4 linked regions of the Homo sapiens genome follow. The protein of the gene in region 4 interacts with the protein of the main gene of each other region in a pairwise test. Each region holds a gene or a part of one and is shown on either strand. Other genes may lie near its edges.

What was found.
Region 1: the proteins of SDCBP2 (region 4) and CRY2 interact in binary tests that used the Homo sapiens proteins (3 or more experiments, as listed by UniProt).
Region 2: the proteins of SDCBP2 (region 4) and NFU1 interact in binary tests that used the Homo sapiens proteins (3 or more experiments, as listed by UniProt).
Region 3: the proteins of SDCBP2 (region 4) and YTHDC1 interact in binary tests that used the Homo sapiens proteins (3 or more experiments, as listed by UniProt).

Annotation. Positions count from the first base shown.
Region 1 is NC_000011.10:45,864,458-45,871,481, reverse strand, and holds part of CRY2 (cryptochrome-2), read right to left. Parts: intron 3,871-7,024; coding exon 3,730-3,870; intron 1,977-3,729; coding exon 1,665-1,976; intron 1,430-1,664; coding exon 1,278-1,429; intron 1,153-1,277; coding exon 950-1,152; intron 641-949; coding exon 548-640; intron 1-547. UniProt on the Homo sapiens protein: Transcriptional repressor which forms a core component of the circadian clock.
Region 2 is NC_000002.12:69,434,428-69,441,550, reverse strand, and holds the start of NFU1 (NFU1 iron-sulfur cluster scaffold homolog, mitochondrial), read left to right. Parts: upstream 1-4,115; 5' UTR 4,116-4,128; coding exon 4,129-4,190; exon of another isoform or gene 4,191-4,280; intron 4,281-7,123. UniProt on the Homo sapiens protein: Iron-sulfur cluster scaffold protein which can assemble [4Fe-4S] clusters and deliver them to target proteins.
Region 3 is NC_000004.12:68,312,090-68,319,113, forward strand, and holds part of YTHDC1 (YTH domain-containing protein 1), read right to left. Parts: intron 6,774-7,024; coding exon 6,737-6,773; intron 6,665-6,736; coding exon of another isoform or gene 6,641-6,664; coding exon 6,601-6,640; intron 6,493-6,600; coding exon 6,430-6,492; intron 4,360-6,429; coding exon 4,225-4,359; intron 2,235-4,224; coding exon 2,010-2,234; 3' UTR 1-2,009. UniProt on the Homo sapiens protein: Regulator of alternative splicing that specifically recognizes and binds N6-methyladenosine (m6A)-containing RNAs.
Region 4 is NC_000020.11:1,326,135-1,333,934, forward strand, and holds the start of SDCBP2 (syntenin-2), read right to left. Parts: upstream 3,006-7,800; 5' UTR 2,951-3,005; intron 1-2,950.

The sequences.
Region 1 (7,024 bases), on a different chromosome or scaffold from region 4:
TCATGCCCTGCCCTACTGACCATCCTTCAGTGCACTGAAGGCTGAATCCTAGTCCTCGTCTCGGACATCAGGCCTGCCACATGCTGCTCATGCTGTATCTTGTCCTCATCTCATTCCAGCTCCTCACTGGGACATGCCGCTACACTGACCTCCCTTCGGTTCCTTGAATGGACTAAGCTCGGTACTGTTTGTGAGCTTTTTCTTGCTACTCCCTTTGTCTGGAATGTTATTTTCTCAGTGTGTGGCAGGGCTGGCTCCTGCTCATGACGTGGGTCTCTGCTTAACAGAGGTGTTCCCTGACTGCTCCAATCTCAAGTGACACAGAAGAAATCCTTCTTTCCCAGTCCCTCTGTCAAGATACTCAACTTTCTTTTCCTCCAAAGCACTTGTTATCTGAAATGATCCAACTTGGTTTCTTTACTATCTGACTGCCCCAGGTGGAATATAAGCTCCACTGGGCAAGGCCTCCTTCTGGCCTCAGTCCTGAATGACTGAAGTGGTGGCACAGGCCACAGGAGGCCACAGGAGGTTGGTTGCTGCTGCTCACCTGCACTGCTCATGCTGCCAGCCTGGCTCGAGCTGGGCTCTGCCACAGGGTGACTGAGGTCTTCCACACAGGAAGGGACAGATGCCAGTAGACCTGGGAGAGAGGCGAGGAGTAATCAGAGTGCCGTCTCGCAGGATTGCAGAGGGCTACAGGGCAGGATGAAGCAAGTGGGGGTGGGGAGGGTAGGAGCAAGACACTGAGGTTCCATTTCCTCCCACAGCCCCACAACTACTCAGGAAGGCCCAGTTCATCCCAGCCTGCAGTGTCCCATACCCAGCGAAGGTGTCAACCTGAAAGACAGCACTCAGTCTCCCTTTGCAAGTATCTGGACATCCCCATCTGGCCCCCTGAGCCTGTAGGTGCTGTCCTTCCCTTCAGTGAGCTAGGTGTTTGTCTCCTTACAGAGTCCCCGGTAGCGCGAAAGCTGCTGGTAAATCTGCTTCATTCGTTCAATGTTAAGCCGGCTGGTCTCGGCATGGTTGACGATGGGCCGTGGGTAGTCCACACCAATGATGCACTTGGCTGCCTTCTGAATTGACTCTGGGGCATTCCAGGGCTCATAGATGTATCGAGAGGGGAACGCTTTCAATTTGGGCAGGTATCGCCTGAAATAAGATACACCAGATGACCCATCAGCATACCCAGACCCTCCTTCAAAAGGCCCAGGGTATCCCATCCTAGTAGGAGGCCACAGTGGTCAGAGGCCAGAGAGCCTGGTCTGTATCCTCACCTGATGTAGTCCCCACTGGGGTCCGTGCGACGGCCAAAGCCCACAGGGCAGTAGCAGTGGAAGAACTGCTGGAAGAAAGCACTGCAGGACAGCCACATCCAGCTGCCTGCGTTCACGCTGAAATCTGCATCCAGGAGCAGCTCATCAAATACCTAGATAGGGGAGGGGATGATCAGCCTCCTTGGGGACATGCAGCCATGTTTTTTCCCAAGTCACCACAGTGCCCCCAGGAGCCAAAACCCTTCCATTGAAGGCAAGCCACAGAGGATCTGGAGGGGATCTCCTGGACCCAGAAATCCCACCTCATCCCTCAGCCCAGAAGGGGGCTGCCCTTTGACGGGCCTGACCAGAGGGTACAGGCCAGCTTTTCGTTGAGAGAGCACTCACCCGGACCCCGCTCTCCCAGCTGACCCAGAGGTCCCCGCGGGTCAGGAAGCAGGCCACGGCATGCCGGGCCAGGTGGTGGATCCAGCCCTCCTGCCTCAGTTGGGTCATGATGGCATCAATCCAAGGGAAGCCTGTCTTGCCCTCAGCCCACTTGGCCAGGGCCTCAGGATTGCGGTCCCAGGGGATCTGGATGCAGATGGGGTTCCCCTCCATGCGGTCAAACCTGGGGTTGTTGGTAGCTGCCGTGTAGAAGAACTCTCGCCATAGGAGTTGCCCAAATAGGGAGAGGGGAGGTGTGCTGTTCCGCTTCACCTGAGAGGTAGGGGTGGCACATGGATACAAACACTCGCCCAGCTCTTAGCATGGTGCCTCTCAGGTCTCTTCTACAAAGGAATCTGGGCCCTCCAAAGACCTAGTGGCTCAGCTGCCAGATGTGGAGGGACTATCCCCTAGAAGTGGCACAGCATGCCTGCATGTGAAACACCCAGGCCCTGCCTGCACTGTGCCACTGCTCTGAGCAAGAAGAAAGCTACAGAGGGCCAGGCAGTGGGAAGGGGCCTCACCACAGGACTCTGCACTAGGATTCAAACTTCCCAAGACTGGTCATGTTCCTTGTCCTCAAGAGTTCCCTGTTTGGCTCCACCTTCTAGAAAGTCAAAAGGAATTTTCCTATCAGCACACATGAAAAATGCTCAGTCTAGATTTTGGTTGAATAAATTATACACACAGCCTGGATCTGGGGCCATAAGGTAATTAAGAAATCAGACCTCCAAGCAAATAATGACTTCCCTAAAGTCACAAGATTACTCACCAAACTGGCAAAGCTATCCCATGCCACAAAATCTCAATAATGGCAAGGATGAGGAGATAACATTTAAAAACCTAGATACAGCCAGGTGTGGTGGCTAGCATCTGTCACTTTGAGAGGCTGAGGTGGGTGGATGGCCTGAGCCCAGGAGTTTGAGATCAGCCTGGGCAACATGGAAAAACCCAGTTTCTACAAAAAAATACAAAAAATTAGCCAGGTGTGGTGGCATGCACCTATAGTCCCAACTGCTGGGGAGGCTGAGATAGGAGGATCACCTGAGCCTGAAAGGTTGTGGCTGCAGTGAGCTGTGATCATACCACTGTACTCCAGCCTGGGTGACAGAATGAGATCCTGTCTCAAAAACAAACAAAAAAACAAATGTAGACACAACGGCTAGGCATGGTGGCTCACGGCTGTAATCCCAGCACTGTGGGAGGCCAAGGCAGGACAATTGCTTGTGCCCAGGAGTTCGAGACCAGCCTGGGCAACATAGCAAGACCCTATCTCTACAAAGAATGTAAAAAATTAGCTCTACTTGAGAGGCTGAGGCAGAGGGATTGCTTGAGCCCAGGAGTCTGAGGTTTCAGTGAGCTGTGATCAGGCCACACTACACTCTAGCCTGGGTAACACAGCTAGACTTTGTCTCTTAAATAAACAACAGAAACAAAAAACATAGGCACAAGATGAGGTGATCCCTCTGAATGCTGACTGTGTTGCCCTCTCTCCTTCTGGGGACAGTTAACACAGGCTTATTTGCTTCTTGTCTGTATAGCACAGCCCTGTGTGCAGCCCCTCCACACCACTCCCTCCATCACTGATGGGCAACTGCTGTTCCTGGACTCCCCTTTTGAATGCTGTGGACACAGCTCCAGAGCGGGCAGCTATGCTCTTCCACTTCAGACTGGCTCCAGCCTCACCCTCTCCATGCCTCTCACCCTGGGGACCTCGCCCCTGTCCACCAGCTGCCAGAGGATATGCCACCTCTAGGGTCACACCTGAGGCCTGCTTTTCTGCCTGTCCTTCTGCTCTACATGATGGTCTGGGCTTCATTCTGGTGGGCAGTTCACTCTGTGCTTGGCTCTGCCCTCTTGGATATTGAGTCTTCTCTCCTCCTCCGGACTATCTGCACACACTTAGGCCCTTCCAGGGGCCATAGCCCAACCCCCACCCACCAGTGCCTTTTTTAGGGTGACTGACAAGCCCAAAAGGCCTGGCTGCAGGCCTTAGGTGCAATGTGGGCAGGTATGTCCCCCTTACCTTTTTATACAGGTCCCACAGGCGGTAGTAGAAGAGGCGGCAGGAGAGACAACCAAAGCGCAGGTAGGGGCTGAGGCCTGTGGGGCTGGCCAGGAGGGAGTTGGCGTTCATTCGGGGTCTCTCATAGTTGGCAACCCAGGCCTACAGCAGAAAGAGAAGGTGGCAAAAGGAAAGGCTTGGATGTAACAGAGGAAAAAATGGAGGCATTGGGTGGTTAAGGAATCTGCCTACGGTCACAGAACAGCCAGCCATGGAGCCATGGAACACTGTGCTTGTCCAGCCGATTTTGAGACGGAACCACCATCAGACCAAACAACGAGTCTATGTCATTCTCTGACTTGCTCTTTAATTTGTGGGGTGACTGTGAACACGTTGTTACTTCCCTCAGCTACGTATCTATTAAATAAGAACAAAATTTCCAATCTTCTGTGGATTAAAATGAGATATGAAAGAATTCTGAAAGCACTGAATGAACTCTCTAATTATACAGCAGGAAACAAGGCTTCTATGTTACAGAAAAGAATATCTCAGTCCCTTCTCTAGTCACTAGCGGCCCTGAGGTTGTATCACAGACACCAGGGACTTCGCATTATTGTTCAACAGCAGCTGGGGAAGGAGGAAACTTCCAATCCATTCCTGGGGACCAATGGAATCATTCATTTCTGGGGCCATGTGTCATATAACATTACTGGTCATGTTTTTATCATCACTGGTTGCTGGCATAGGACTTTACTTTCCTGACTTGCTGTTCCATGCAGTCTCTCACGACTTTTTTTATTTATTTTTTTTTCTTTTTTGAGACAGAGTTTTGCTCTTGTCACCCAGGCTGGAGTGCAGTGGCGTGATCTCGGCTCACCGCAACCTCCACCTCCCGGGTTCAAGGGATTCTCCTGATCGCCCACCTTGGCCTCCCAAAGTGCTGGGATTATAGGTGTGAGCCACTGTGCCCGGCCTATTTCCACTTTCTTAACTCCCAACATCCTCTCCTCCTCTCCATGATACTGTTTCACAACCTTGACTCTCTTCAGCCTCCTGAGTAGCTGGGATTATAGGCACCTGCCACCACACCTGGCTAATTTTTGTATTTTTAGTAGACATGGGGTTTCGCCATGTTGGCCAGGCTGGTCTCTAACTCCAAACCTCAGGTGACCACAAGGCTGGTTCCCACAAGAGTCTCCTGTGACTTCTGTGCCACTGAGTCCTGCAGGCACTTTCTGACCTTGTATTTTGGGATCTCTCAGCAGCGCTATACCTGCCAACTGTGCTGTCTTATCCTCTTGATTCCTTGGCCTCTGTGACTCCACATCTCCTGGTATCTCCCAGCTGCCTGGCGCTCTTGGTCTTTCATCAGCTCCACCTCCTCTGCCTCTCCCTTAAATGTGGGTACCCAGGGCTCAGCTCTAGGTTCTCTACTCAACTGTGTGCCTCAGCAAGCTCATCCAGGCCCATGGCTCCCAGTTCCACCCCTTTGCAGACAACCACCACATCCATAGCTCTAGCCCAGATTGCTCCACCCAGCTGCCTGCTAGAAACCTCTACTTGGCTGCCTCTCAGGCAGCTCAAGGGAGATGTGCCCTTTTCTTTTAACCCACCCTTCCATTGGCCTCCCTACCTCAGATAATACACTGCTAGCTACCTAGCTGCCCAAGGCACAATCCTAGCCATCACCTTTGTCCCCTCACCAAGTCCTGTCAATTCTACTGCCTAAATATTTCCCAAATCTGTCCTTTTCTTTCCATTCCCTGCTGCCACCAACCTGGTTCAGGCTAAGGTCATATCTAGACTGGACAACTGTGGCAGCCTCCTGACTGGCCTCCCTGCGTCCACTCCCATCCCCCGCTAACTCATTCTCCACGCTGGGACCAGAGTAATGTAATGCCTGTTGCTCGGGATAATGTACACAGTGGGCTTCCTGTTGCTCTGAGGACAGAGCCCAAATCTTCATGAAAGCTTCTGTGGCTCCCCAGCACCCAGGCCTTTCCAGCTCTGTCTCTTGCCCCTTTTTTTTGAGACAGGGTCAGGGTGGAGTGCAGTGGTGTGATCTCGGCTCACTGTACCCTCCGCCTCCTGCTGCCCCTCTTCTTTACGCATCTGCTCTCACTGGCCTTTGCCTCTGCACAAGCAGCTGCCTCTGGACCACTGTCTTCCTTTCCCTCACCTTCACCTGGTTAACTGAGACTCTTCCTTCAAGTCGCAACCTCAAGGCTTCCTCCTCTGCAGGTAACCCCTGTGGTATCAGGTTAAGCACTTCTAACAGATACTAGGTATTTTTGCGTGTACACACCCTTGCTAGCCCCCAGCTTTTAAAATATTTTTATTTTAAATGAAACTTGGATACAGAAAATCACACACATGTGTGACTTAATGAATTATTCTAAGGCAAACATCCACGCAATAGCCACCAAGGTTTGGGAAACAGAGCTTTGACAGCCACCCCAAGAGTCTATGTGCTCATCCCAGGAATAGTTCCCTCCTGCCCCCCAGTATATGCAACCCCTACCTCAGCTTTTATAATAAACACGTTCTGCATTTCTGAAATGTTTACATTTTTCTATTTTGGCAAAACGTTTGAAAGGAAGGACTTTATCTTTTCACAGTTATTCTTTGTGTTTAAGTAGCTTTTTTTTTTTTACCCAAATGTGCATTCCTAGGTATTACAATTTAGTCTTGGCCATTTAAAAAACTTTATTTCTGCCCGGGTGTGGTGGCTCATGCCTGTAATTCCAGCACTTTGGGAGGCTGAGGCAGGAGGATCACTTGCGGTCAGGAGTTTGAGACCAGTCAGGCCAACAGGGTGAAACCCTGTCTCTACTAAAAGGACAACAATTAGCCAGGCATGATTGTGGGAGCCTGTAATCCCAGCTACTCAGTTTTCTTTTTTTTTTGAGACAGAGTCTCATTCTGTCAACCAGGCTGGAGTGCAGTGGCATGATCTCGTCTCACTGCAACCTCCGCCTCCCAGGTTCAAGCGATTCTCGTGCCTCAACCTCCCAAGTAGCTGGGATTACAGGCACTCGCCACCATGCCTAACTAGTTTTTGTATTTTTAGTAGAGATGAGGTTTCACTATGTTGGCCAGGCTGGTCTCGAACTCCTGACTTCAAGTGCTCCACCTGCCTCGGCCTCCCAAAGTGCTGGGATTCTTTTTCTTTTATTTCTGAGACCCCACTCTCTGTCACCCAGGCAGGAGTGCAGTGGCATGACTTCCTGGGCTTAAGTGATTCTCCCACCTCAGCCTCCCAAGTAGTTGGCACTACAGGCACATGCTGCCACACCCGGCTAATTTGTTTTTATTT
Region 2 (7,123 bases), on a different chromosome or scaffold from region 4:
CTTAGAACAGCCATGGTTAACCTAATGCTAGATGACGAGTTAGTGGGTGCAGCACACCAGCATGGCACATGTATACATATGTAACTAACCTGCACATTGTGCACATGTACCCTAAAACTTAAAGTATTAAAAAAAAAAAAAAAAGAACAGCCATGGTTAAAGACACAATTGACAAGGAAATTTGGTTATTTCTGTGGCACACAACGATGTAACATAATAATCATAATTATTACTGATGTCATATACTAAGACATACCAGAATTACAGGAATCTCACACAATTTTGAAACACACATTAATAACTCATTCATATAAATATAACCCAAAGAAAGTTAAACACCATTTCACATTTGACAATGCTTCCTCTCCCCCACATAGCGTTCTATTCCCTTAGTGCCTTTGTTGATTTACAAATCTTCTCCAGGAGCTCCCTGAGACCAGGAATTGTTTTGTTCATCTTAATATTACTCCACACAGGATTTTGATCATCTGTGAGTAACAGGAAACCTAATTAAACAGTACTGTAGGCAAATATTGACCTAAAAGAAAGAAGCTGAGGCAAAATTAATATAGAGAATTTATTTGGGCCAAGGTTGAGGACTGTAGCCCTGGCCATATTGCAGGTTGCCTTGGAGAGTGCTCTGGGAAAAAAGGAGAGGCTCAACTTTTTAAAGAAAAAGAGACAAATCAGGGGAGAGGAACAATTACAAAAGTTGCTCATCAGGTATTCTCATTTGACTTTTTTTTTTTCTTGAGACAGGGTCTCATGCTGTCACCCAGGCTGGAGTGCAGTGGTGCAATCACGGCTCATTGCAGCCTCAACTTCCCAGGCTCAGGTGATTCTCTCATCTCAGCCTCCCAAATAGCTGGCACTACAGGCATATGCCATGACATCTGGCTAATTTTTTGTGGAGACATGGTTTGTTTGTAGAGACTCCCAAGTGCTGGGATTAGAGGCGTGAGCCACAGCACCCGGCCCTGATACTTTTCTTTTTTAGGCTAGTCAATGGGCCTCATAATTTAAAGGGGCTCACCTTCCTCAGATAACATGTTTTTATTCTGCCAGGGTTAGTGGCTCATGCTTGTAAACCCTCCATGTTTCCCAGCATGGTCTCAAACTCCTGGGCTCAAGCAATTTGCCCACCTTGGCCTCCCAGAGTGTTGGGATTACAGGTGTGAGCCACCATGCTCAGCAGGTATTCTCATTGGTTTACAGAAATAACATTGTTAGTGACTGGCCATGCACTGTTGAACTATAGGGTATATGGCATGTTAACGGCTTCTTGACATTAGTCTAGTGTATACATAGCAAGTGACTTCAAGAAGTTGTTACTTAGCTCAAGGGCGAATGAGATATTACTGCTGCTACATTTTAAATGCCTCTCTGGGCCTGATACTTTTTCTAGTGCAGGCTTGTGGTGCAGGACTGGCAGGCAGCTCTGCTCATGGCCCTGGCATGGGATCCACTAGGCGAAGCCAGCTGGGCTCCTGAGTCAGGTGGGGACTTGGAGAACTTTTATGTCTAGCCAGAGGATTGTATATGTATCAATCAGCACTCTGTGTCTAGCTTGGGGTTTATGGATGCACCAATCAGCACTCTGTATCTAGCTAATCTGGTGGGAACTTGGAGAACTTTTATGTCTGGCTAAAGGATTGTAAATACACCAATCAGCACCCTGTGTCTAGCTCAAGGTTTGTAAATGCACCAATCAGTGCTCTGTGTCTAGCTAACCTAGTGGGGACTTGGAGAACTTTTACTCTAGCTAGAGGATTGTAAATACACCAATCAGCACTCTATGTCTAGCTCAGGGATTGTAAACGCACCAATCAGCACCCTGTCAAAACGGACCAATCAGCTCTCTGTAAAACAAACCAATCAGTACTCTGTAAAATGGACCAATCAGCTCTCTGTAAAATGGGCCAATCAGCAGGATGTGGGTGGGGTCAGATAAGGGAATAAAAGCAGGGTGCCTGAGGCAGCAGTGGCAACCTGCTTGGGTCCCCTTCCATGTTATGAAAGCTTTGTTCTTTTGCTCTTTGTAGTAAATCTTGATGTGGCTCACTCTTTGGGCCCGTGCTGTCTTTATGAACTGTAACACCCATCGCAAAGGTCTGCAGCTTCACTCCTGAAGTCAGTGAGACCACGAACCCACCAGAAGAAACAAACTCCGGACACATCTGACCATCTGAAGGAACAGACTCTGGACACACCATCTTTAAGAACTGTAACACTCACCACAAGGGTCCATGGCTTCATTCTTGAAGTTAGCGAGACCAAGAACCCACCAATTCCGGACACAGTAGCACAGAGGCTGTGGGTGGTTTGACTAGAGCAGGCCCTAAGAATGGTGGGACATAGAAGCCTCGTTTCAGGGGTTTGAGGAGTGGGAAGTGAAAAACTAGAGACTAAGAGTGCAGACCATTTTTTTAAGCCACTTGGTTCTGAAGGGAAGAAAAGAGTGTGGAAGAGGATTTGGGGCAAGGCAGGATTTTTCTTATGATAAGGAATCCATCAGAGAGGGAAAAATTGAAGTCTGAGAAGAACGATTGTTCCAAGGTGGAAGAGCCACATTTTATTTTTGATTGAGGGTCAAAAACAGAGCCTTGGACTGCCTTGCGGTCTAGAATGGGTGTGTGTGGGGGGGTGGGTGGGGGGTTGGATGGGGGAAGATCACTGGGTGGGGGGTTGGATGGGGGAAGATCACTAGTAGTTAAAAGCAAGTACGCAGCATTGGGAATGAACCAAACTCGTAGGAGGCACAGCCCACTCAGTGTGCGGGCCCGGGCGAGCTGCAGGCCTGAAACCCACCCACCCTCTTAGATGTGTCTGTGGGCCATAGAAATTACTAGGGTTGTCTTGGGTGTGGCCTCAACCTGTTCAACAACAGGTGTGCTGTTTCCATTCTGGAAACCAGTCCTCTGTCTTCCAGAACAGTGATTCTCAAATTTTAGCTGGCATCAGAATCCTGGGAAGGGTTTGTTAAAACACTACTAGGCAGGGTGAGGTAACCTAAGAGCTTTTGGAGGCCCAGGTGAGAGGGATCACTTGAGGCCAGCAGAGTTCAAGAGCAGCCCAGGCAACACAGGGAGACCTCTTCTCTACAAAAATACTACTACTACTACTGCTAATAAAAGCCAGGCACCGTGGCTCACACCTGTAATCCCAGTGCTTTGGGAGGCTGAGGCTGGAGGATGAATCACTTGAGCCCAGGAGTTGGTTTTGGTGAGCTATGATCGCACTCCTGCTCTCCAGCCTGGGCAACAGAGATAGACCCTGTCTCTGGAAAAAGAAAAAAAAAAAAAGCAAGTAACAAAGATTTCTAGTCCCCACCTACAGAGATTGTGCCTCAGTAAGTATAAAGTGGGGCCCAGGATTTCTAACATGTTCTAACGTGCATTTCTAACGTGTTCTCCTGCTTTTTTTTGGCCCCTAGTCCGCACTTTGAGAACCGTTGTCCTAGAGAAAACGGAATACTCCAGGAAGGTTCTGGAAGAATAGGTAATGGGCTTTGGCACTCTGCCCTGGAAACTAGTCAAGTCTCATGTTAATCGGAGAAGGGCAGCACTGTACCAGATACATCCTCTGTGCGGGTTGGTCCAAGATGACCAAGTGGCAGCTGACAAGCACAGCTATGAGGAAGGGTTAGACACAGTTCCACATCAGACCCATGGGAAAAGGGCAGGAGAAATGCGAGAACCTTTTAGAAGGAATGCTCCAGGGAGTCTTTGGGGGCAGTCACTGAGCTGGGCCTGGAGGCTGAGTAGGGTCCTAGAGGAGGGAATGGGTCAGGTTTAGGGGCTGGAAACAGCATTCGCAAGGCAGCACCAGCACCAGCTAAAAACCTAGCCAACAGGGAAAACAAAGTACGGAAACACGCATGCGTTCACAGTGCTGCGTGAATTAACCAAGCGTTGGCGCAAACGGGAAAGGTTCCCCGGCCTCTCTTGGTCAGGGTGACGCAGTAGCCTGCAAACCTCGGCGCGTAGGCCACCGCACTTATCCGCAGCAGGACCGCCCGCAGCCGGTAGGGTGGGCTCTTCCCAGTGCCCGCCCAGCTACCGGCCAGCCTGCGGCTGCGCAGATCTTTCGTGGTTCTGTCAGGGAGACCCTTAGGCACTCCGGACTAAGATGGCGGCGACGGCCAGGCGGGGCTGGGGAGCTGCGGCTGTTGCCGCCGGGCTGCGCAGGCGGTAGGTGACGAGCCTGGAGCTCCGAATAGGTGTGCCGCTGGGCTTAGCCAGCGGAGCGGTCGCCGCCTTGCAGACCCTCTCTCGAGGCGGGTGGGTAGTGCATCTGATGGAGCCGGCGGGTCCGCCCTGTCGCCGTAGTTGGGGGTGAGCCCTGAGGCTGTCTGTGCGGGAGCTCGGCGCTTCTGTGGCCTAATCCGGGCGGACTCTCTGGAGCTTCCTCTCAGGCTCAGAGACCCAGTTCTTGAGTCTCTGCGGTACGGAAGCTTGTAGAGACTGGCTGTAGAGCCAGAACGGAGGAGCTGTTTTAAAATCGTGTGCCTCTCCCGCCCCCAGGCCCTCTACCGGGTGCATTCCCTCCTCTTCTAAACGCAGAATCAGAATGTCACACAGAAGGGAAGAAAATACCTTGTCTCGTTTCCTCATTTTCCCAGTAAGGCCCTGAAAGAGGAGGTGACATGTCCAAGGTTACACAGTTTCTAAGTGATGGAATTCCGACGAGAACCAGGACCCCTAGATTCCCTGCACCCACCACCATTAAGCCCACTCTGTTCCCTTGTTTTTTCCGCCTCCCTGAGCCCTACCTTTGAGTTTCACCTTTCAAAGACTTCTGTGAACATTGCTAAGAGGACATTTATGTAGGTGTACCTTAATTTTACGTCTGGAGAAAATGGCCTACGGAGAGTTTGCCCTCTAGAGTATTAGACATTGTAGTGTTAATGGTGCTCTTGAAGTTTAAATGTATATCCTAAAAAGATTTAAGTTGGTAGAATTTTTTGTTAGTTACCTCCTGTGTTTGAGTAGATGTCTTCCTTGAATAATGTAATCCACTCTTACTTTAAAAAAACAAGACTTTAAACCTGTATGTTGGAATGTGCTTCCTCTTTATTCATTCTGCTGCCTTTTCCCTGGGCTGAAGGGACGAGAATATTATTCTTCTAGTGCATTTCCAAATTCCAGAGTATTCACAGATTTAGATACTGAGCTATAGAAAAAGGCATTTTTACCCCAAACCTTGAACTGCACTCAATTAGTAATTATTGGGCACCAATTAAATAATGGTAGCAGCTGCCATTTATTGAGCACTTACTGCATGGCCTGGCACTGGTTTAAGCACTTTACATGGATTCTCTGGATTATTTATGAGGTAGCTGTGAAACTAATCTCATTGTAGAGATGAAGAACTGAGGCCATTGTGCTAGCAGCTAGAAATGAAGATAGTTTCTCCCCTTAATGAGTATGCAGTCTAGCAAGAAAAATATATTAACAAATAATGACAGTCATGAGTGCTGTAATAGATTCATGTAATTTAAAGTGGTGTGCCGGGCGTGGTGGCTCACGCCTGTAATCCCAGCACTTTGAGAGGTCAAGCTGGGCGGATTGGCTGAGGTCAGGAGTTCGAGACCAGTCTGGCCAACATGGTGAAACTAAAAAAAAAAAAAAAAAAGCTGGGCGTGGTGGTGTGTGCCTGTAATCCCAGCGAGTTGGGAGGCTGAGGCAGGGGAATTGCTTGAACCAGGGAGGTGGAGGTTGCAGTGAGCCAAGATCACGCCACTGCACTTCAGCCTGGGTGACAGAGTGAGAAAAGCGAGATTATTTCCATCTCAAAATAAAGTGGTGACAGCTCTTACTGTGATCAACACTGGAGCTAGTGTGGGGAGTGGCAGTCAGGACTTCACAGATTATTTGATTCCCATTCAGTGTTGATTCCATTGTTCTCTTGAATCCTCGGTGCCAATCCTTTTATCTCTCCAATAGCATCTAAGAAACTCTATGGGTTACAGTCCCACAGTATCCCAGTAGTCTTTTGCTTATCAATGGCATATAAAGATTATTGAAGGTAGTAAACAGTTCATCTGTATTTTGTTAATACTTAATTGGTGCCCACTCTTTCTTTTCCACGAGAAGAATTCCAGTTTTGTGAGAGAGAGAAAAAAATGTGGCAGCCGCTGTTGCTTCTTGCCTATTTTAAGCAGAAGATAATTAGATAAATGTGATCTTGTGTATGATCACAAACAATTTTGGCCTTTGGAAAAAATTTTAACAGAAAATTATGACAGTGAAAGACCGTTCTAACTGACCATCATTTTGCCTTTAACCTCTAGACTGCCCATTCCCGGGCTTGGGCCAAGCTAACTTTGGGAGACATTTAGTTTATAGTTTAAATGATAATAGCCCTTTCCCAAAATTAAACCACCTTTATAAAGCTAATGAAAGACCACCAGGTTTGGAGGATGAGAGGAGCCTGAATTCTGCTAAGGTGTAGATGTAAATGATTACCAGCCATTATTCTGGCGGTCCTAAGAGTTGCAACTTCCCCAATTACTCCTGCAGAAAACATCTCTCTTGTAGAACCTAAGATTAGCCTTTTCAGGTTTTTGCATTTCTGACTGGTCCTGTGGCCCCGCCCACAAACGGGCTGAGCACTCAGGAGGATCATTTTCCGCACCCCTATGATTGCATCCCCAACCAGTCAGCAACACCCGTTCCCTGGCCTGCCAGTCTATCCTTGAAAACCCCTAGCCTCAGATCCAGAGAGACTGAGTACTAAAACTCCACTCTCCCTTTCAGCTGGCTCCATGTGAATTAAACTCTTTATTGCAAATCCCCTGTCTTGATGAATTAGCAGTATCTGGACAGTGGGCAAAGTGAACCCATTGGCAATTATAAATGACTCCTGTACTTAAAATTTTTCTATGGCTCCTATGAAGTGGCAGTGGTAATGGATAGCGATGATATTTTCAAGTAAACCGGATTTTAAAGTAAATTGCATTGGGATTTTAAGAATTTTTACTATTAAAGTCTCCTTTTACTTCCTTTTCCAGTAATATTTGCTTTCATTTTCTTCCTTTGTTTTCAGTTTGTCAAAGCCATAAAAAATAGCCAATTAAGTTTTCTCTGTAAGAGTGAAGTAAAGTTAGAGGCCTGGCGCTGTG
Region 3 (7,024 bases), on a different chromosome or scaffold from region 4:
CCACCTGGGCGACAGACTCCATCTCCAAAACATTTATTAATTTATATACTGTTTTTTCAAAAGTGATGAGGTGGTTTAGAAACACCAAATAAAAACATGGGTAAAATCTTGGCCCATCAATTACTACCTTTCTAATCTTGGGCAAGTTTACTAGCCTCTCTGAGCCCATTTAAATGAGTCTGTATATAAAAGCACAAAGTCTCTATTGCATACAAAGTGCTCAGTATTTATTCCTATTATTTCAGGAAAATACCTTTAATATTACCTACCAGTTTTGTATAATGGTTACAGAAATTCTTAAACTGTAGCTATCATCTTGTCTAGCTTACTGATGAATACACAAAATGCCAATGAAGTGACTTACCATGTATCACTAACCGGTTTAATTAAAGACAATGACAAAACTAGAACCCAGGTTTCCTTAAAAGTACTTTTTCCTCTCTACCACAATGCAGATTTAAAACAAATCCTCAGGCTTTAGTTTTGTCATTGTAAATAAAACTTCTGTGAATGCAGGGAAAGATACTACATGCTGGTATGAATATGAATGCAGTATAACTATAGTTTATTATATCCTTTAAGAGTAAAGTGCCTGTGTTGTTCTTTTCAGGCCAATATAGATTAAATGTAAAACTGTACTATGTGATCTGGTACACAGTACAACTGTTGATACTATAAAAAAATCAAACATTCAAATATTCCTAATGTTTATAAAGGCCAAATTCCAAAGGCCAAAACTCCAGGTGTAACTCAAGAAAAAATTCAAAAAAATTATTTCATAAACTGTTTTCTTGAGCGGCTCTATTTCTATGTTATAGTTGGTTACCACTGGGAGAACTGGACAGTTAACTTAAAATACAGAACTAATACAAGAGGGTTAAAAGTCCATTTATGAAGTAAAGTAGAAAGCATGTACAAAGTCGTTCACTTACAGAAGACTAAAACAACAAATAGAAAACCTAAATAAACGATTCTGTGATCAGAGTAGACTCAAAATGTTATCAGGTGTATAAATACTTAACCAAATTATTAACATAACTCTGTGTATCTTATGTTAGAAATAGAAGTAAGCTTTTAATGCAACAGGCCTAGGTCAATCATTTCTGCTAAAGTGTGCCTCAAAAAAAGCAAATGGGGTTCCTAAAATTCCTGAACAAAAAGCATGCTTTTATGTCCATTATTGCATAATAAAACAAACCTGCAATTGGATAAGAAAAAGATACAAAAGATAACCGTCAATCTTTACCAATTTATTTTATACAAAACAGTAGCAATGTAGAATATGGGAATCGTCTTCCGCTGCCACGCACGCAAGTTGTGAACATTCCAAGCCAATGTATACAATTTGGAGGGGAAGGCTAAACAATAGCATCAACCACGCTACTGAACATAGGAATTTTTCATTTAAAAAGATTAAAAATTAGATAGCAATGTCTTCTTAATATTGCTCTCGTCATTGAAGACTGAGGAAAAATAAAAAGTGACTTTATAAGTTTTTTAAAAAAAGAGGCAATGGGGAAAAAAACAAGAGGCTGCTACAACACTGCCATACAGTCAAACCATCATACTTCAATATTTGCATACTCGATAGCAGCATTATTTTTACTGAACCGTGTGCAACTACATGTAGAAACACATCAAAGCAAAATATCATGGCAGTTATCAATCAAGATCCAAAAAGGAAAAAAACAAACAAAAAAATAACTCTAGGATGAACACACTATAAGAACATTTATGGAGAAAGAATCAGTATCTACATTCTTGGACTGTTCCATTCTGCCCCAATAAAAGTGTCAATTCAACTGTCAGCTGTGGATTTTTGGCGGATTTGAGTTTTTCCAGTTCTTATGATACTGCATGCTTGGAACAAAGGGGGTCATAATAAATCCTTCTACACAATGAACTTCATAGGCAGACAGCTGAAAATAAATTTACTACTTGTAAACACACACAAAAAAAAAATACAAGATTTTTTGTATCTTTAAACAATCAGTGCTTCCAAAAGCCCATTATCTTCTATATCGACCTCTCTCCCCTCGGTCTCTGTCTCGATCACATAATCGCTCTCTTTCTCTTTCTCTATCACGTCCTCTATCTCGCTCTCTGTCTCGTCTGTTATCTCTAGGGCGGTCTCGCTCTCGTTCCCGGTCTCTTTCACGGGGTCTACTTCTCCGGCCACTGACAACAGCTTGTGTGCGACGAAGGAAATCATCCACCCTCATATCATAATCATGCTAGAAAAGGAAAGAAATGTGTTAGGTATGTCAAAAAGGCAAATAGTGTTAAGTGGATCCCTGATTTGAAAAAAAAATTTATATAAACAATTTTAAAATATAAAAAAAGAAAAGTCTCTGTATTATAATCGGCGGAGAGAACAATCCAAAGAAATGCAATAATAAATTAATTCACAGAAGGTAATATGCTGACATGGTTTAGAAAAAGGATGATGCCTCATTAGACATCTACAACAGATTATTCAAATCTCTTTATGCAGTTTTCCACTTAACTTTAATGACTTTTCCATCTGATCCCTTCAGTAAGATTTAGGCCAAAGATATTAACTAGTGATGACCTTCAACTATTATCCATATATACTGCCAATTATGCTAAATGTCATCAATGTTTTTCTGGCACAGGCTAGCTCTACATTTTTCCTCCAATTCTACCAACTTCAATTTTACAAACTGAGTATTATGTTCCAGATTTTCTTTCAAACTAAATTGTTACAACTAAGTTGATGTGCAAGAAAAGTTGTGGCTGCTCCTAAACTTGGCCCCTGCTCTAGTTTAAACTTTCTACTCTTAGTTCTCAGCTTACCTTACTGATTTTGGTCTTCTCTCAAAACTTAGCTGAAATAAGATTTGAAAACACAGTCCCACATTACCTTTTATATATGTGATTATGTAAGTAGAGAATATGTATACTAACCAAAAAATCACTACATAAAGATCCATAAAATAGAACTTGTTAAAAAGGATATAGTTGAGGAAAACAAAAAAATCTCAGACTTCCTATTTTAAAAGCCATGTGATCAGTTATGGGAATTTTTAAGACACCACAACCCATCTAGTCAACTAAGATTTCATTATAGATAGACTGTATATTTCTTTCTTGTGTGCTTAACTGAAAATAAACTACTAATTTAAAGTTTGTGAATTAGTTAACTAGTACTCTCAAATTATTTTACAGAATGTTAGAAGTCATGATAAGATTTGATTTAGAGAAAATTACTATCTTTATAAGGAAATTACTGACAACACAAAAAAATGTCTCAAAGATAGGCTAGAAAGCTGCTCTGATTCTCACAAATAGGCCCACTCTTCATCTTAAGTGGGAAAATAAAAAGATGTTTATTTGGCCCCATACAGACTCATCAACCTAAGTAGGGAGTGGAAAAAAATTCTAACTTGCATATCCTACTTAGTTTAACAACAAAACTACCTTTCTAAGGCTATCAAACTTATATGCATATGAATTATGCTTCCAACACTTGCCAGAAGACAATTCTGCTTTATAAATAAAAGTACTATTGGGGGGGGTGGGGAAGCATTTAATAAACTCAGCCCCACTAGTTAAAAACCCAGAAAACTCAAACTAAAACTAGAGTCTTTTTTTCACTGGTCCTGTTTTGAAGCCATCAAAAAAAGCTTTCACATCAATCTTATCAAATAATTAACAGAATCAATGAATAAAGGACATGTCTGCTACATATCATAACATCTGGTTATTCTTTGCTAACATCACAATAACCAGAGGTAAAACAATTTATCAGTTACTAGCTTTAACATTTGGTAGAAATAAAAACAAATGACTAAATGAGATTACAGCTTATCAGCTAACTTAATATACACGATCTATCCTAGAAAAATTGAGTAAGAATACACAAAAAGTTCAGAAATATCTATTAACAATATTAATTACATAGCATAATTAAGATCTCAATATGGAAAGAACATAGCCTAGGTACTACCTAAAAGGAGTTCTATTTGTAGGCGTTTGCCTTAAGCAGTTTGTGATTTGATCAGTAAAAGAAATATATTCTATCTATATAATCCAAAGGGGCATAATCAGGCATTTTTAATAAAAACAAACAATTATTCCAAAACAGTCTGCAGTAAGAATATGCAATGGTCCGTCAATCATCATACTCTGGTCTCCCCATATTTAAGTTACCTACAGAATTCTAAGTAGTTCCCTCACACCTTTGCCTCCTTGTGCACTTACTACTCGTTTATCTCTGTATCTTGCTTCATGTGGTACTGGATGATGTCCTGAGTAAGGGGGATGAGCTTGAGGAGGTGGAGCATGGTGCTGATAGTAAGGATGGTGTGGAGGTTGTTCCATTCCTGGGTAAGGGGGCTAAAAAAGGAAAACCATTTACATTAAGAATCTACCAACACCCTTGTAAACAAGCGATTCTTAGAACCCTTCATCCAAAACACCAATCCCAAACAAGTGAATCTGTACTAGACATTTACTTTGATGGCATTAAGGTGTTTCAAAATATGCTTTTTGTCGAAAATTACACATCTTCTAAGATTTAACATGTTTATGCTTTTCTACTCCTATCATATAAATAACAATGGAAATAGCAAACACTTACATGGTGCTTACTGTGAGCCAGGCATTGTTCTAAGCACTTTACTAGTCTCATTTAATTCTCACAGCAACCTTATGAGATAGATACTATTGTTCCCAGTTTACAAAAGGGAAAACTGAAGCAACAAGGAGTTAAGTAACCTGCTTATAGTCACACTACTGTTAAAGTGGTGAAGCAGGCATACGGCATCAGGCATCCTAGTTCTGCAGTTGGTAAACTGGTTAACCACTTTGTATGTATCTGTTCTTAGAAACATCAACAGGCCTGGTGTGGTGGCTCACGCCCATATCCCAGTGCTTTGGGAGGCTGAGGGAAAAGAATCCCTTAAGCCAGGAGTTGGAGACCAGCTTGGGTAACAGAGTGAGACCTTGTCTCTATAAAAAAATTAGCCAGGCACAGTGGCATGTGCCTGTAGTCCCACCTACTCAGGAAGCTGAGGCAGCAGGACCACTTGTGCCCAGGAGTTCAAGGCTGCACAGAGCTATCATCACACCACTGCATTCCAGCCTGGGAGACCGAATGAGACCCTGTCTCTCAAAAAAAAAGTCCAGGAGCAAATTAACTTTTAAATGCCATTTAAAAAATGAATAAAGGGTAAATTAAAGATTACTTTCATAGTTACTATCAAGATCATATATTATTAAATTTTTAAAATTTCCTAGAATCTAAAGGGGAAAAGTCTCATAATCATCTGCATATAATAGTATAAAACTGTATACCTTAAAAGTGAAACAAAAGTCAGATGAAGAGGCCATATAACATATTGCATTTAAAAAAAGACATAAATTAAAATGTAAGAAAACAGTAGAAGCTACTTCAACTTCCAGGTTTTTATTTCTTGAAAATTAATGCTTCAGCTATCTTCAATATCTTAAAATATACTCTAAGACAATTCAGTTTTCTTAAAGGAAATAATTAAAAAGCAGGAATAATCAGGGTTTAATTAATCTTATTTTACACAGAAAATTTAGTGAGTATTAGATCAGGCACTATGCTAAACTTAACATGTACTTTGTAAATTTATCTTGACAATGAAAATGACACTACTACATTAAATTTTAAGCTATACCAGGACAGTCATGATGTCAATTTCATTCACCATGATATAATCAGAACAAGCACAGTGCCTTGCACAGAGTAAGTACTAAATATTATATTTGATAAGACAAAGCATCAGTGAATGCCCATGGAATTTTACAGATGAGGAAAACTAAGAGTTGTATTAAGAAATTAACCCAAAGTCACAGAGTTGGGAAGAAAAAGAAATATATCTGAACCCAAGCGGACTTTGCACTACTAATTACTACCATAATACACTATTACAGTTCTCAAGCCTGTACTATTAACACAAATGAGCTTTTAGTCTTTAGTTTGAAAGACAGCATACAATTATTTATCATCAAAAATCTGTATTTTAAGTCTTTTTGAGATGGAGTCTCCCTCTGTTGCCCAGGCTGGAGTGCAGTGGCGCAATCTCGGCTCACTGTAACCTCTGCCTCCTGGGTTGAAGCAATTCTCCTGCCTCAGCCTCCCCGAGTAGCTGGGAGTACAGGCACACGCCACCACACCCAGCTAATGTTTTTTGTATTTTTAGTAGAGACAAGGTTTCAGTTTCACCGTGTTGGCCAGGCTGGTCTCGAACTCTTCACCTCAGGTGATCTAGCCGCCTCAGCCTCCCAAAGTGCTGGGACTGCAGGTGTGAGCCACGGCGCCTGGCCAGTTTAAGTCTCTTTAATGAGTAACTGTAACAATCATATTCCGAGTAAGCACCTGAAATACTAGAACTGCAAATTAAGTTATGTAACTTATAAAAATAGAATAATACAAACCATTCCTTGCCAAGGTGGTGGTGGTCCCATGTTATGAAATTCCCTCACATAATCATTGTAGGACTAAAATAAAAGATGATAATGTCAATATAATTAAAAATTATCACAGAACTGCAAAATAAATCAGAGCCTGATTTTATCCACATTAAATAGATAAAATGAAATGCTTACCCCATTTAAAAACACATCTCGGCGAACTCCTGAAAATCGTCTGTTGGGAATAAGATTTGTGAAACTAAATTCAGGTAATTCATAAACTAGTTCCAAGAATGTAATTCAAAACTAGGCAAGAGTGAACCCGACTTACCTGTCCACTTCCTGGTATCGTGGATCCTTTAAATACCCTGTTCAAACATCAAGCATTTTAGTAAATCAAATTTATATTTTTCTTTTATGGCATTATAATTAAACCTTCCTTACCACTCGTTTCAATTCTTTCCATGAAATATGTACTTTAAGTGATGCTACTACTGTATTATCCCATTTTCAAATTTTCTTCTCAGATTACATGATAATCTAGGAAATAACTAATGATATCATAGAATTGTAAACTGCTAGAGAAGCTTTCAGATAGGTATCTTCTATGTTCACACTC
Region 4 (7,800 bases):
GGAAGAGAGTGTGCTATTCCAGGGACAGGGAGGCCCAGGCCTGAGAGTCCAGTTGCCTTCTGGATCCCGTTTACCTCGCAGATTATCCAAACTGGACTCGTGATTTTCCCCAGCTGTGCCGCGCCTCCCCAGCGGTCTCACTGAATCCACCCATGGGCTATGTCAGAAATCTGGGAGTTATCCTCAGCTCCTCCCTTTCCCTTCTGAAGCCATACCTACTTCTTGCCCTCAAATCTCTGTGACCTGACTTCTGGTAATGTTTCCATTCTCACCATCTCATTCTTCTCCACACTTATCATGAAGTTCATTTATTCCAGACTACTTTAGGTTGAGTCCTAAAAGTCAGCCTGCTAGTTCATGCCTCCATGCTTTTGCAGGTGCTATTCCCTCTGTCTTAAGAGTCATTCATGCCTTCTCTCTTTTCCTTGTTGTGAACTCTTTTTCCTCCAATTTAAAGCTTTCCCCCACCTGTACGCATGGAGATTGGCAAGCCTCCCTTCTCTAGACGACAGCATTTCTTGTATTTGCCTCTTCATCATATATTCCACAAGTGTTTGTTAATCACCTACTATGAGCAAGGCCTTCTGCATTTCCTAGGTTGGATTTCCACTGTGCTGTGTTTGTTTGCTCATCTCCCTCACTGGTCAGGAAATGTCACTCATTTGTTAACCCCCAGTGCTGAGCACAGTGCCTGGCACACAACAGGCATCCCATTACTATTTCTGAAAGGAGTGGAAAAGCAGGCACAGAGAGAAGAGAAAGCCTGATATCCTAAATATACAGTCTTTCTTCCCATGCCTGTCTGTGTTTGCAGTCAATAAGTAGAAAGTCTTTCGAAGAATAACCTGGGCCTGGAAAAGGAGAGAAACCATGGCCCTAACGAGTTAGGTTGAAAGGCTGCCTGGCTCCTATAATCTGACAGTGGAAGTTTGCTCAGTTCTGTGCTGATGGCTTCCCACAAGTAATTGGTTCCTCCGAAAGGAAAAGAACCCACCTAACCCCTCTCTCTCAGAGGAATTTTCCTCTCCCACAGCCCTTTCCAGATTTCCATCCCTGAGCTTCTGTACTTTTTGATATAAGCAATAACAACACCCACAACAAACCAATAGCTGGGCTTCGGAGATCAGCAGGGCTGACAAGGGGACTTCAGCCCCCATCTTTGAACTTAGAGTGAGAACACTCTTTGGAACACTTTGTTCCAAAGAGCTGAAGTGATGGAACTCCCACTCGTTCCTGTGGACAGCTCATCCGTCCTTTACAAGACAGTGCGCGGGAGGGAAGCGTGGGTTAGAGTGTCAGAGGAATAGCTCCTGGAAGGCCAAATTAGCCCAGGGATGTGGTGAGTCGGAATAGAAGAAGCTGTTGCTAGGCCACCAGCATGTACCCCCACTCCTCCTCTCAGTGCTGCACTGCCTGCTGGGGAAAAGCTGTGACTTCCTCAAGCAGACACGCCTGAACCCAGGCCCAGGCAGGGCAGGGTTCAGACTGACTGCTTCTGACTTGTGAGAGCACAGCATAGGCAAATCCCCTTTGAATGTCATTTCTTCCTTTGTAATCTGGATAACAATAGTTGCATCACAGTTGTCTGGAGACTGAAAGATTTTTAAAAAGAGTTAAGGTGTATATGGAAAGCATTTAGCACAGCACCTAGCACATAATAGGCATTCAGTAAAAGTTAGCTGTTTATTCATTGTTTCAGCGCTTACTTACTCAGCACCTGCTAAGTCTGAGTACTGTTCTAGGTATCAGCAGTGAAGGAAAGAAGACTTGGTCCCCAAATGTACTTTCTTTGGGGGAAGAGCTGGATAAATAGGCTTTGTGACTCTGTGTGCTGTGTTAGATGGTGGGAGGCACTGGAGAGAAAGAGCAGGACGGAGGGTCATGTCAGGAGGTTCAGAAGCCTTGCTGGCTGGGTGGGGTGACATTTGAGGAAAGGCCTAATGGGGTGGGCACGGCCATTGCAGAGCCTCTCAGGTGGGAGTTGGTGTTGTGTTTAGAGGACATCTGCCAGTGAGAAGCCAGTTGTGCAGAGAGGGAGTAAGGAGGAGTAGTGGGGAGGAAGCTGGAGAAGTGAGAGGGGCCAGATCCTGGAGGGCCTGGAGGTCATGGTGAGGACTTTGGCATTTACTGTAGTGAGATGGGAGCCACTGGGGGATTTGTAGCAGCAGAGTGCCAAGGTCCAAGGGTTATTTTGACAGGCCTCCTCTGGCTGATGTTTGGAGGATGGGCTACAGGGCAGGAGTGGGAGCAGGAGCCCAGGTGGGAAGTGATGGTGGTGGAATTGTCATGAGCTTGGGCCACTGTACGTGAAGCTGCCTGTCCAGTGCTCGCCCAGCCCATACCAGGCTCGTTTTCTGCCCCATTTTCTGAGACCCTGCTGAGGAGGGCATGCACTGGCTCCTGTGTCCAGTATGTCCTTCCATTCTCCTGACTTTGTGGGCTATTTTCAGTCTCCAGATGAAGAAACCAGTTCTTAGAAAGGTGAAGCCCCTGGCGCAGTTCCCCAGCAGGTGTTTCAGTGCTGTGGCAGGAAGGTTTTTTGATAGAAACAGCCTCAGGCCAGAGAAGTCGGCCTGAGCTGTGGATTCCTTGGGAGAAATGGGCTTTTTGCCTGCCTGCAGCCTCTGGTTTCGGCTGGAATTGGCCTTTCAAGGAGCAAAGTGTGGATCTCATCTCCTTGAGCACAGTCATGGGCAGTCAGAAGGCATCGGGGGCCCTCATGATGTCTGGGTGAAGAAAATCACTCAGCCCTTAATCAAACTTGGTCCAGGGCTGGGATCAGAAGAAGAAACCCCACTTCACACTTGACTGCTTGGAGTGAAGCACTTCGAAAGGAAGCTGCCTGGGAAGTCCCAGAAGGGAAGGGGCAGGGAGGGAAGGGGACAGGGTGAGAGCAGGTCTCACTCATCCCAATCCCAGCCAGGATTGGGTCAGGGCCCCCAGCGCTTACCTGCAGGCAAGGTGCTGCTCCACGACCTTCTCCAGCTGCTGCCGCTGCTGAATCTGTTTCCCTCCCTGAAACGTAGCCCTGTCTCTCAGCTGGCTTCCTGATCTGGGAAGGGTGGTGCCTGTCCCCTGTTCAGCTGACTCACCTTGGACTGGGATGGGCACAGGTGAGGGCTGTGGCTGGGTAAACAAGGCAGGTTGCCAGCCCAGAGGAGGCCTTTGGCCTTAGTCTGGATTTGGAGGTGGGATTAAGGCCCTCACAGCTGCTGTTCAGACGGTTATGAACCAAGACTTCTTGGCCTTTTCTTAAATAGCTCTAAATTTGGGTTGGACACCTAGTCCTGCTGATCGAGGCAGTTGGCTAGAGGGCGGTTTGTGATAGGTATCTAGGGGTCTAGGCCAGGATATTAAAAAGTGGTCATATCCTGTGACCCAGCATTTCTTCTAGGAATTTGTTACAGTGGAGTCACAGGGCCCATCCATCACTGCTGCTTCTAGTAAGGAAAATGTAGAAATCCCAAATGCCCATCTCTGTGGTCTGCTTGAATAAATCATTGTCTGTGGAAGATCACAGAGCTATTAAAGTCACTTAAGGAAGAAGGTATGAGGAAACATTTCTGAGATTCTAGTGAGATGTTGAAAAATCAATATTGTGAATCTCTTCTTGCATTTTGTTTTCATTTTTTGTAAAGTGGATGTGCGTTGAAAGCAGTCTAGGAGGACATACGCTAAAATGCTGAGTATCTCTGAATGGCAGCATTGAGGGTGAGGTTTTCAGTTTGTACTTTTGTGTGTTCCAAGGTGGTTTTTTTTTTTTTAAGTTAGCTTTTGCTCTGAATGCTCATGACTTTTGTAAGGGGGAAGCAATTAAGTTTGATTATTTTAATGGGAATTTAGAGTGGTTGTCTCTTGGGAGCAGACCTAAGGAGCTGTGTGCTGAGGTGGAGATTTTTTTTTTTATGGCACATTTTTGGTGTCTTAAATTTTGAAAAGTTTAAATGTACTACTTATTCCAAAAATAATTATATAAATTTGAACAGAAAAGGAGGAAGAATTTAGTTTAGATCCTGGTGGGTTTGGTTGGGTGAGGGTGCCTGTCGCACTGGGTGCCTGGGGAGGGACGAGGGACTCGTGTGCTGGGCAGTCCCATGAGGATTGACGCTGTACACACTCAGGGTGTGTCAGTATCTGGGCTGCTTCCTGGGCCAGGCAGGCCTACGTCACAGTTCCCATGACCCACCTGGCAGAGTTGCACTAGCCTTGGGTGTCAGATCTTGTGCCTGCCAATGAAGAGCTTACAGCCCAGAGTCCCACACAGGAAACACACAATAGGAATAATAACAAGAAAGACATTTGCCACTAATTCAGCACTTACTCCCAGAGAGCACAGAGATTCTACCCCTGGCACTTTAAAGGCATTATCTCAATGGCTTCTCATGCCATCCCTGCAGAGTAGGTGTGACTCACACCATTCCTCCAGGTGGGGACACTGAGGCACAGAGGCAAAGTTTCTCTCTCAAGTTAGCTGGAAAGTGGGCCAAGTTCATGTCTTCTCTTCTATGGGACATACTGTTTCAGAAAGCTGAGGTGTGGGGCAACCTCAGAGTAAGCTGTGTGGGCCTGAAGCTGAGGTAACGTGGGTGATGGACCCACCTTAGGTCAGGTGTCCAAGGCCAAAGCAAAGTGGAAAATAGAGATCCTAACTAAACCAAGCCACTCCTCCCCCACCTCACTTCATTCAGTCATGACCTGAAAGGGCCTTTATAGAAGAGGGAGGAGGAAGCAGGCCCTTCCAGGTAAGGGGCTTGCCTGTGGTCCCAGCATGTCAGCATGGAGCCCAGGTCCCCTAACTCCCACCTATTTAATACCTACAGGGACTCTCTTTCTATTCCCTCTTTGGATAGTTGCCACCCATCACTGACTTCCAGCCACCTGGAAATATCTTTCATTGGGCATGCCCTTGCTCGAACTCTTCAGTGGCTCCCTCCTGCTTCAGGGTCTGGGCTAAACTCCCAGGGCTGACATGGAGACCTCCACAGCCCACTCCCTTTATTACCTCCTCAGCACTCCCCCAGCACCTCTGCCTCAGCTGGACTGGGAGCCCCACCATTCCTGCCCCACTGCACACCCACTTCCTACCTGCCCTGACTCCATACCTTTGCCTGTCCTGCTGCTGCCCCTGGAACACCTTCTCCTGCCCCCACCCACCTAGCCACATCCACCACTGAGCTCCTCCAGGAAGCCTCTGGGATCCCCCACATCCATGTGGCCTCTCCCGCCTCTGACTCTGGATCAGACGCTCCTGTTCCATTCTTTAATAATCATCATCTTGTACTCATGTGTACCTTTTAGGCTACTAGTTAGACCCTAAGTTCCCTGAGGGCAGGGCCAAGTTATTAGCTCTACAGTGGTCATTCTTTTGAGACAGCATTTCGCTCTGTCACCCAGGCCATAGTGCTGTGGTGCAATCATGGTTCACTGCAGCCTCCACCTCCCAGGCTCAAAGGATTCTTCCACCTCAGCCTCCCTATTAGCTGGGACGACAGGTTCACACTGCCACACCTGGCTAATTTTTTTATTTTCTGTAGAGACAGGGTTTTGCCATGTTGCCCAGACTGGTCTCAAACTCCTGGGCTCAAGCAGTCTGCCTGCCTGAGCCTCCCAAAGTGCTGGGATTACAGGTGTGAGACCCCACACCCAGCCAGTTACTCTTTTCAAAATAAGGAGTGGAACTGTGCTCTGACCAGACAATATTTCTGCTTTGTTATATATTTGTATGAACAAGTCTAAAACTTTGGGTGGCCAGTAAACAGCACACACTCAGAAACTCCCTGGTAGCACCCATGGCACCCTGAGTAATCAACCACTAATGTCCTTCCTGCTGGGCCCAGAGGCCTCTCCGGATCCTCTCGTCATAATGCTGCAGGCAGCTACCGTCACCTAGAGTTGGCTCATGAGGTGAAGTCTCCATGCCATCTGGAATGGGTGCTCCATGATGGCAGGGGCTTGTCTTAACCCTGAGGCCTAGTACTATGCCTGGCACATAGCAGGCTCACAGTAAATTTTTTTTTTTTTTTTGAGATATGGTCTTGCTCTGTCTGCCAGGCTCAAGTGATCCTCCTGTCTCAGCCTCCTACGATCCTCCTGCCTCAGCCTCCCAAGATCCTCCTGCCTCAGCCTCCCACAATCCTCCTGCCTCAGCCTCCTGAATAGCTGGGACCACAGGCGTATGCCACCACAGCTGGTTAATTTTTGTATTTTCTGTAGAGATGGGGTTTTGCCATGTTGCCTAGGCTGGTTTTGAACTCCTGGGCTCAAGGGATGTATCCACCTTGGCCTCCCAAAGTACTGAGATTACAGGCGTGAGCCACCACACCTGGCCTCAGTAAATATTGACTGAGTGAATAAATGCCCCTCCTAGAAAAGTCAATCACAGTTAGAAACTTAAATGGCTGACCCTTATTTAAAAGATGGGTTGGGCTGGGGCATCCGATCTGAGTCCCAGCTCTGTGATGTTGCACATGTTACTAAACCTCTCTGAGCTGTAGTTTCCACACCTACCTTCTTTATAGACTTATCCTGAAGACTAAATGAGGTAACCATGTGAAGTACCTAGGACACAGCTGGCATTTAGTAAATGTTAGTTTCCTACTTTCTCATGGCTACATGTCACAGAAACAGTCATCTGATTGGAGTGAAAATAGAGATGCTCTTCCCAGAAGAAGAGAGAATGTCGGCTGGGCAGAGAAGGAGCTGCTCTACACTCCAGCCCTCTGCATGGAATCTGGGTAGTGCAGCAAGACCCTGGCTTATGTCATCACAGCTTTGTTCCTACTGCTGAATTGAAATAATAACAGGAAGCGTAGCATTTATTGAGCTCCTGCACACTGGGTGCTCTGCTGGGCACTGGGCATACACTGATCTCATCTGTTCACCATAATTCCCAGCTTCAGAGTGAAGCACTTTGCCCAAGGCAACACACCCCAAGAGTGGTAAGGCCAGGCCTTGGCTCTGAACCTCTAGGAGTCTCCTACCCTAGTGCAGCTGAGTCACAGATTTCTCTTTAAGAAACCCACAAAGAAGTCCTTAGGTGGCAAAAATTTGATCACATGGCCACATAGAGCTGCATGGGAGACTGGGAAATGGAGGCAGTCTATTGTTAGCAGGTTCTGTGCCAGCCTCTACTATAGCATGCTGTGAAGCCCTGCCCTTTCTGGACCTCAGTCTCCGTATTTGGCCAGGGAAGAGTTTGGATGGATTTTCTCTGAGGTTTGCCCTAACGGTACTAAGGCCCCACAAAGGGCCAACTCTATTGCCACTTCCAGTCCCTCCTGTGGCGTGAACACCAAAGATGTCCACTATGAGCATTTGGTCTCCAAACACAATGTCCTTCATGCTATTTCTGAGCTCCATCTTGGTTTTGCTTTTTGGAGATGTGTGTGAGTTAAGGTAGGCCAGGTTATGCTGCAGCAACAAACAACCCTGAAATCTTGGTGGCTCCTAATAGGAAGTGTCATTCTCATGCACGCTACTACCCGTCAAGGGCTGGCAGGGTCCCCATGTCTCCTTACTCCAGGACTGGGGGTGATGGAGCAGCTGCCATCTCAAAGGCCGTCAGAAGCCACGGCAGAGGGAAAGAGATCTCTATCTGGCAATTAAGTGCTCCAGCCCAAATGACAGATGTCACTTCTCACACCTTGTTGGCCAGGTTACCCCACCTCCCAATCACAAGGGAACAGGGAGCTGCCATCCCACCACATGCCTGGAAGGCAAAGAGTAGGAAATATAGGAGGATGACATTAATAACAACCTCAGGCCTCTGTTCCAGAGTGTCTGCCAGCCAGCTCTGATCAT